2 separate regions of the Homo sapiens genome follow, and region 2 is linked to region 1. The links come from fine-mapping of genetic effects on gene expression. A gene starts in region 1. The other region holds a variant in brackets. All regions are shown on one strand. Distances are from middle to middle.

The links. PIP is the estimated chance that this variant, and not a neighbour inherited with it, causes the effect.
Region 2: its variant is the best candidate, but not a certain one, in a credible set for the expression of POLR2I in whole blood (TOPMed, PIP 0.66).

Annotation. Positions count from the first base shown.
Region 1 is chr19:36,112,316-36,116,696 of GRCh38, reverse strand. POLR2I (RNA polymerase II subunit I) reads left to right here and starts at 1,822. Exons shown (of 6, transcript NM_006233.5): 1 at 1,822-1,899; 2 at 1,984-2,038; 3 at 2,285-2,358; 4 at 2,446-2,520; 5 at 2,631-2,682; 6 at 2,880-2,988. The coding sequence starts at 1,841. The coding sequence ends at 2,942. OVOL3 (ovo like zinc finger 3) reads right to left here. Exons shown (of 4, transcript NM_001302757.2): 3 at 3,733-3,937; 4 at 2,986-3,244. The coding sequence ends at 3,036. It overlaps TBCB (tubulin folding cofactor B), which reads right to left and starts at 1,229. Exons shown (of 6, transcript NM_001281.3): 1 at 1,023-1,229; 2 at 513-656. The coding sequence starts at 1,136. RefSeq lists enhancers at 499-588, 2,179-2,308, 2,327-2,838 and a silencer at 899-988.
Region 2 is chr19:36,084,605-36,088,985 of GRCh38, reverse strand. It overlaps WDR62 (WD repeat domain 62), which reads right to left. Exons shown (of 32, transcript NM_001083961.2): 12 at 4,242-4,333; 13 at 2,174-2,299. Among named protein-coding and RNA genes, the nearest start is that of OVOL3, 24 kb to the left of the region's middle. The variant C/T (reference allele first, on the strand shown) is at 2,146.

The DNA.
Region 1 (4,381 bases):
GATAGTGCCACTGCACTCCATTCCAGGTTGGGTGACAGAGTGAGACTCTGTCTCAAAAAAAGACAGAAAGGATGTACTGAGTGGATGCACAAAGAGATCCTGTGTTCTGGTTTCTCCCAAGCTGTCCAGCCTGGTCGCTCACTGTGACCTACCTCACATTCTAGGCCTCTGTACACCCTGCTCCCTCCTTTCCACCTCTTTCTCTTAAGTCACCCTTTCCTCATCCCTCAGCTCAGACATCCCTTCCTCCAGGAAGCCCTCTCTGATTCTCCCAGGTGGAGTCAGGCACCTCTTCTTGGTGGCTCCAGTCCCCTGGGATTTCCTGATCCCAGCCCAGACCACTCTAGGCTGTCCCTGTCTAATGATGGGTCTGTCTCTCGTCAGGCTGCACTGGAGGCTCCACGAAGGCAGGACCTATCTCGGGTATGACTGAGGGCAAAGCCCAGCAAGTGTCTGTTGAATAACCAAATGAAAGGTGGGGTGGGGGAGTGTCCCAGATAGAGAGTCCTCACGTGGATGCGGCAGCCGTCATCTACAGGGTAGGAGCCCAGGAGCGCATCCTCTTGATCCAGCTTGCTGTAGAACTTGTCGTCAACTCCATACAGCTCCAGTTCCATGCAGGAAGCAGGGCTGCCCACCAGCAACTCCAGTTTACACTGTGAGGAGGAGGCAGGGTGAGAAGAAGGAGGCCACGGAGGCCCCGCCCCTTGCATCAATGACCATCGCCACGTCCCTTTTCCTCCAAAAGACCCCCCAGTCAGGACGCACGGGGCCGCAATCCAGCCCCTCGCCTCTTGCCCCCGCCCTCTGGACCGTCGGATTTTTCGCTGGACCCGGCCCTCATCTCTGCACTCTCGAGTTCTCTCCGGACCCGCCCCGCCGCGACCGGGTCCCCAGCCTCCGCAGCCTGGGATCACCTCCGGGCCCGCCCAGTCACTCCCCGGCCCCTCCCAGCCTCCCCCTTCCGGGAACCCCCCAATTTCTTCGCCCCGCCCCTCCGGACCCCGCCCCCATGGCCACACCTTGAACTCAGCGATGGTGAGGCTGCGGCTGTATCGCTTCTCGGAGCGGAAGGTGTTGAGGGAGCTGCTGATGAAAACGGTCACCGTGGGTGCCGACACCCCCGTCACCTCCATCTTGCCGCGCCCTGCGGATGCCTGCAGCGCGGTCCAGCCGCCTCACACCCGCTCCGCAGCCGCCGCCGCCGCTGCTGCTGCTGGGCTATCAGCCCCGCCTCCTGCTCCGTGCCTGACCAATCCGCGCTCTCCTGCCAGGAGCGTCCGCCAATCGCCGCCGTCCCTTCCCCACCGCCAGGAAGAGGGCTCTCCTTACTCTTGGGCCAGCCCAGCCAATCCAGAGGGGCCTTCCATAGTTCACGGTTCTTCCAATAGCGGCCCGGGAAAGGACCAGAACAGGCGGCGAAGACTGAAGCCCGGAGGTAGGAGTGGCAAGAGCTCGCCCAGTCCGCGAAGGGTAAACTCGCGCATGCGCACTGGCCTTCAACCAAGCCAAGCGCCTTGGCTTCTGTCCTGGATGCTCAGTGTTTTGCGGTTTACGATGCGCATCGTTTTCCCGGCTCTGGCACCAGATCCATACTATTCTGTAAACTGAGGCGGCGATGCCCAAAAATTGGAAGCAATTACTCTAAGATATCAAAAGATTGAAGCAAGCCATGAAACCTCTGCGCGGAGAGAGCCGAGCCCGAGGCGGCGGGGAGCCAGCACGTGTGCGCAGCTCCGCCCTCTTTTGGCGAAGCACCTAGGCCTGGCCCCTCCCGCGACCTGTAGCGCGGCGGAGCAAGCGCGGAAGGCTGGGAGGGCTGCGCGGGCTGCGCGTCGCCATGGAGCCCGACGGGACTTACGAGCCGGGCTTCGTGGGTATTCGCTTCTGCCAGGAATGGTGAGGCGGAGGGAGCGGGTGATGTTAGAAGGCGGGCGAGGAATGGCTCCAGAACTAACCCCTGGCACCTCCCCCTCCCCACAGTAACAACATGCTGTACCCCAAGGAAGACAAGGAGAACCGCATTCTGCTCTACGCGGTGAGCGCCGGGGTCTTCCCCGGCAGGTCCACCTGTTCCCAGCGTGGCCCCGCCCTGCCCCCTGCCTCTGTGATCGGACTCCCTGTTCGCCCTCCGCTGCACCTCAAGTGATCCTGACTCTCATGTCCTGCCCATCCCCAAAGAGAGTCCTGTCGTCATATCCTCCGGGATCACCCTGCCCTCTCCTCCCAATCTTGTCTGGAATCCTTCCGTGACCCCCTTTCCCCCACACTCGCCCTCTCGTAGTGCCGGAACTGTGATTACCAGCAGGAGGCCGACAACAGCTGCATCTATGTCAACAAGATCACGCACGAAGTGGAGTGAGTGGCGGGCCCTGAGCTGGGGGCGGGGGTGTTGGCTCTGGAGGCTGGGTCTGAGCGTAATTTTGCACCCCCGCGTCCCTGCAGCGAACTGACCCAGATTATCGCCGACGTGTCCCAGGACCCCACGTTGCCGCGGACCGAGGACCACCCGTGCCAAAAGTGAGCGTTCAGCTGGTACTGGGGAGGTAAAGTGAGGCTCGTCTCCTCACTGGGCGAAGGGAGGAGGGAAGGGTGTGAAGCCTCCGGTGACCGAGCCCCTACCCTCTCAGGTGCGGCCACAAGGAGGCTGTGTTCTTCCAGTCACACAGTGCGCGGGCCGAGGTAAGTGGCGCGAGGGCTTTCTAAGTATCTGGGGCTTGTTTGGTCCTTTCTGGGGGCGGGGATATCAATGTGGGTGACCCTGCGCTTCTTGGAACTCTGCCGGGCCCTTACCTATTGGTGAAGTTCTCTTGCCTGTTCTTTTGGGGTAAGGCGCTGCTGGGTCCAAATCCTTCCTAACCATGCATCATTTCTGCCAGGACGCCATGCGCCTTTACTACGTGTGCACAGCCCCACACTGCGGCCACCGCTGGACCGAGTGACCTCCTCTCTCCCCCGAGTGTAATAAACACCAGATTCCATGCGTGAGTTTTCTGTGTTTATTTGCCTCGTGGGGAGGACGCTGGCACACCGTATCAGGCTGCGCGGTGCAGGGCGCGGTGCTGTGCGTAGGTGTCGGGCCGGGAGCTGGTGAAGCCGCAGTCCTCGCACACGTGCAGCTTCTCGCGGCGCTCACGGTAAGCGTAGCTGGCCGGCTGTCCATGCACCTTAGCAAGGTGAGCTTCCAGGGAGCAGCGCTGCGTAAACGCTTTCCCGCAAGCACTGCAGCGGAAGGGCCGGATCCCTGCACAGATGGGCGCAGAGGGGAGGGCTGGACAGAGAGGGCAATGGGCTCTGGACTAAAGCGCCCCCACCCTGCTTTCCAGTGTTGAGCATTTCTGGTACCTATTCCAAGCTCTTCAGACTCTTCCGCCCATGACCCACCATCTGCTACCGTCACCCAGTGCAGACATGGGCCAGACACCTGTGTCTCCACTCTCCCTCACCAGGATGCTCCCTCCCCTGGGGGATGGAGAGGGAGGCCTTCCCTTGCCTTTCGATCTGGAGCCTGAATCGTATAACCGGCATCCGTCTGCACTCTGCATTCCGTGACAGGCCCCTATTTTGGTGCCACCTTACACCCACCCACTGGGGTCCGAGAGACATCATGTCTTGATTCTCCATACCCCACATACACAAACCATGGACACTCCACAGCCCAGCACCTCTCTCCATTTCCTTCCATCCCCACCTGGGGCCCAGCAACTTTTCCCTGTCCCTGCCACTGCTCACCAGTGTGAGTCCTCATGTGGCGCTTGAGATCGAAGGCGTCATGAAAGCCCTTGCCACAACAGCGGCACAGGTGGCGGCGCACGGGGCTGTGGCACTTGAGGTGCCTTGTCAGCATGCGCTGCAGAGGGAAGGCCTTAGGGCAGAGCGGGCAGCCCAGCGTCCCAGGGCCCCTGGGAGCAGAGGTCAGGTTGCCCTGTGTGGGCTGCTGGAGGGATGCAGGAGTTATTAGCCTCTCTGGCTGGACCCCATCCACCCTTTGTTACTCTGCAAATGAGTATTTACAGAGTGTCCTGAGCCACCACGGAGGATTAGGAAGGCAGGTGGGAGACAGTGATTAGTGTGTGTGCCTGTCACTCTCCAGGGCCTTCCCTCACTATCCCATGGTCCTTACTTTCTCTATGCCAAGTCCCATCTTCTGATGTGACATACACATTTTTTTTTTTTAAAGACAGAGTCTTGCTCTGTCGCCCAGGCAGGAGTGAAGTGGTATGATGTCAGGTCACTGCAACCTCCGCCTCCCGGGTTCAAGCGATTCTAGTGCCTCAGCCTCCCCACGATTACACGATTGTAGGCATGCGCCACATGCCCAGTTAATTTTTTTATTTTTTGTAGAGATGGGGTTTCACCATGTTGGCCAGGCTGGTCTTGA
Region 2 (4,381 bases), 28 kb after region 1:
GACCCTAGCTGGGGAACTCCACTGCAAGAGCCATCAATCAACTGTGCTGGGATCAAGGCTTCCTAAAGGTGGTGAGGTGGGTGCTGGGTCTGGGTGGGACTCTGTAAGGTATGAGCTGTACGTGTGAGGGGGCACAGGTGGAGCTGTGGCCAAGGCAGGCTCTGCAGAGCAAGGGCATATAGAGAAACAAAGGCTGGGGACAAAGAAGGGACACCCTCTCCAGTCTGGGATTGAGATAGGTGACTTGAGTAGCGGAGTAGAGGCAGGACTGCAGCAGCGACCAGTGGAGACAGGCTGGGAGGCTCGTGCCATCAGGATCAACTGCAAGATCCACATGAGCCTTGGGCCAGGCCCCATGCATGTAGCGGGTCTTCCTGAATGCTCACCACCCATCCCACTGGACAAGCATGAACACAGAGGTTCACAGAGTCCTTGTCCCAAGGCACACAGAGAGGACAGGGGCAGGACTGAACCCAGGCATTCTCTGGTGCCAAGGTCAAAGCTGTTAAACACTGCTCTGAACCTGGGCCTCCCCTTTGAGCCTCAACTTCCGGTCCGTACAATGGGCATGGTGACAGTTCCTTCTCTGGAGAGTGATGTGAAGCCCTTGGAACAGGGACTGCCACATGGTAAGCATTAGAAACATTCTTGCTTTTATTATTCTCATTTCTTTTTTTTTGAGACAGAGTTTCGCTCTTGTTGCCCAGGCTGGAGTGCAATGGCGTGAGATGCCCCCGGCCGTCTCATTTCTTTACAGAATAACAGTTTGGTGAGGATGAAATGACAGAACAAATATAAAACTCTGAGTCTGGGCACATCACACATGCTCCTTCATGACAGGACATTTGAGAGGGTCCAGGCCTGACATACAAGTATTAGATGTTGCTCAAGGAGGAGTCATTGGCTCACAGAAGGGAGTGAGCCCCATATAAGGGAGGAAGGGTAACCTGGGAGGGACCCAGAGAAGGCCTGCAAGCCTCTGGTAATGTTCTGCTTCTTAACCTGCACGTGGTGAATCCAAGTACCGTATTTAACAATATTACGACCATGAGCAATTAGAACAGTCTCTGCTATCAACAACGTCCTAGTTCAAACCTTGCTCCTAAGAACTGTGGATACTCACTTCGGCCACCACGCCCAGCTTATTTTTTATTTTTATTTTTTTTGAGATGGAGTTTTGCTCTTGTTACCCAGACTGGAGTGCAGTGAAACAATTTTGGCTCACTGCAACCTTGGCCTCCTGGATTCAAGCTATTCTCCTGCCTCAGCCTCCCAAGTAGCTGGGATTACAGGTGTGCACCACCATGCCCGGTTACTTTTTTTGAATTTTTAGTAGAGACGGGGTTTCACTATGTTGGCCAGGCTGGTCTTAAACTCCTAGCTTCAGGTGATCTGCCTGCCTCAGCCTCCCAAAGTGCTGGGATGACAAGCATGAGCCACCACGCCCGGCCTATATTCTTCTTTTTTTTTTTTTTGAGACAAAGTCTCGCATTGTCACCCAAGCTGGAGTGGAGTCACTGGCGCAATCTTGGCTCACTGCAACCTCCGCCTCCCGGGTTCACACAATTCTCCTGCCTCAGCCTCCCGAGTAGCTGGGATTACAGGTGCACACCACCATGCCTGGCTAATTTTTTTGTATTTTTAGTAGAGATGGGGTTTCACTATGTTGGCCAGACTGGTCTCGAACTCCTGACCTCATGATCTACCTGCCTTGGCCTCCCAAAGTGCTGAGATTACAGGTGTGAGCCATGGTACCTGGCCATTATTCTTTTTTTTTTGAGACAGGGTCTCACTCTGTTGCCTAGGCTGGAGTGCAGCCTCCACCTCCCAGGTTCAAGCAATTCTCCCACCTCGGCCTCCTGAGTAGCTGGGATTACAGAAACAACACCCCGCCCAGCAAATTTTTGTATTTTTAGTAGAGACGGGGTTTCACCATGTTGTCTAGGAAGGTCCCGAACTCCTGACCTCAGGTGATCCACCCTCCTTGGCCTCCCAAAGTGTTGGGATTACAGGTGTGAGCCATTACACCCGGCCCCAGTCATTATTCTGTATACTGTACACAGATACTGTATTCACTTGTTTGGATATATATTTTACAGGAGAGTTGAAAGAATGAATCCTTTTTTAGCAGGGTAGCTAGCAAGG[C/T]GCAGGGAGCGGGAAGAAAGGGGCTCACCAGCGAACTTGATGGCGGTGATGGAGGAGGAGTGGTCATCCAGCGTCTGCTCCAGGTTGTAGTTCTTCTCCACGTTCAGCACATGGATCAGCCGGTCCCGACTGGCTGAGGCCAGCAAGGTCAGCCCTGTGAGAGGAGAGAATGAGACTGGTTCCTGAAGGCTGCGTGGGTGCCCTGGCCTCCCAGAAGGGCAGTGTGACCAAGCTGCCCAGTCCTCGGAGAAGGGGTCTTTGGTTCTTCAACTGTAGCCAACTTGGCCCAAGCCTGGCAAGGGCCACTCCCTTAGCTCTGTGTGGTCTTTCCCAGAGCCCCCACACCCTGGCATTTCACCTCCTCACCACCAGCTCAGGGAGGATGAGTCTCGATGGGCGCATGGACGCTCCTCCAGGGACATCCACAGCAGACGCCCCAGCAGAGCCCAGCGCTCTTGCCTGCTGGGTCTGTGCTGGGTAAAGCCCTGGCAACCTCTCAGCCTCTTCCAAAACCAGTGTCCTCTCACCCTCTGAGGTCTGGCTACCTGGGCCTTGTTCAGGTCCTATTGACTGCCTGTGGCCAGACTCCCATCTGCCACCAGCCTTCCCTACTCTGGTCACTTGCTATGTCTGAGGCCTAATAACATGACCTGAGGCAGAGGGGAGATCAGGAGAGGCGAACCGAGTGAAGATATGTTTCAAGACAAGTTGGTGGGGCACACAGCATGGGGGATGAGAGAACGAAAGAAGAACATGGGGAAAATCACATCAGGATATAACTCCACCAACTCTGTAACTCCCAAAGTGCTGGGATTACAGGCATGAGCCACCGTGCCCAGCCTAGAAAACATCTTGAGGAGCCGGGCATGGTGGTTCACGCTTGTAATCCCAGCATTTTGGGAGGCCAAGGCGGGTGGATCACCTGACGTCAGGAGTTTGAGACCAGCATCGTGCAATACCTTCTATGCTAAAAATAAACAAGAAAAAGGACACAAAATGCTACCATATATCATCCATATATCATCTGGGTGACAGAGCAAGACTCTGTCTTGAAACAAACGAAATCTTCACTTGGAAATCTTCTCCTATCTCATGATCTCATCTGATGGCCCAGAAGGAATTTTCTGTTGTTTTAATGAAGAGGACCATGAGGTCTGGAGACCCTACTATGGTCCTAGCCTTCAGCCTAGGCTAACATGGTGAAACCCCGTCTGTACTAAAAATACAAAAATTAGCCGGGTGTGGTGGGGGCGTGCCTGTAATCCCAGCTACTCTCGAGAGGCTGAGGCAGGAGAATCGCTTGAACGCAGGGGAATCGCTTCAACCTGGGAGGCGGAAGTTGCAGTGAACTGAGATCGCGTCATTGCCCTCCGGCCAGGGCGACAGAGTGAGACTCTTGTCTCAAAAAAAAAAAAAAAAAAAAAAAGGTCAGGTGTGGTGGCTCATGCCCTAATCCCAGCGCTTTGGGAGGCCAAGGCGGGCGGATCACCTGAGGTCAGGAGTTTGAGACCAACCTGGCCAACATGGTGAAACCCCATCTCTACTAAAAATACAAAAATTGGCCAGGCATGGCAGCAGGCACCTGTAATCCCAGCTACATGGGAGACTGAGGCACGAGAATCACTTGAACCAGAGAGGTGGAGGCTGCAGTCAGCAGAGATGGTGCCACTCCCCTCTAGCCTGGGTGACAGCAAGACTCCATCTCAAAAAAAAAATTGAGGAATTTGGGTGAAGCCTATGGGGTGTTCATTATAATATTCTCCCAATATTTCTATAGGCTTCAAACTTTTTGAAAATAATGCCTAACAATCAATCTATCTTCTCATTCACAATTCACTCATTCATACATCCACCCCTTTGGCTTGGGTGCTGGCACCAGCAGCGGGCAAGTCAAGCTGAGTCCTGCCTGCGGGTGTCTTGCTTTCTGAAGTCCCAGCCACTCTGGTCTCAGGGTCCAGCTACAGGGGCCCTTACCGAACACAAAACTCCCAGCTGTCATCCACAGTCCCACCAGACACCAACTACCCCTTTCTGTGGCCCTGCCAGGGGGGCTGCCTCCCTGCCTGACCCCCATTCCACCCCTGCTGCGGGCTCACCCGTCTCTGGCTTGGAGTACTCCAGGCACAGCACCTCAGCATCATGGGCCTCCACCTTGACCAGCTCGTCCATGAAGTGCAGCTCGTGGATCCTGGGAGACACACACCGCCCGCTGAAGCCCCACACCCCAGCCCCATGT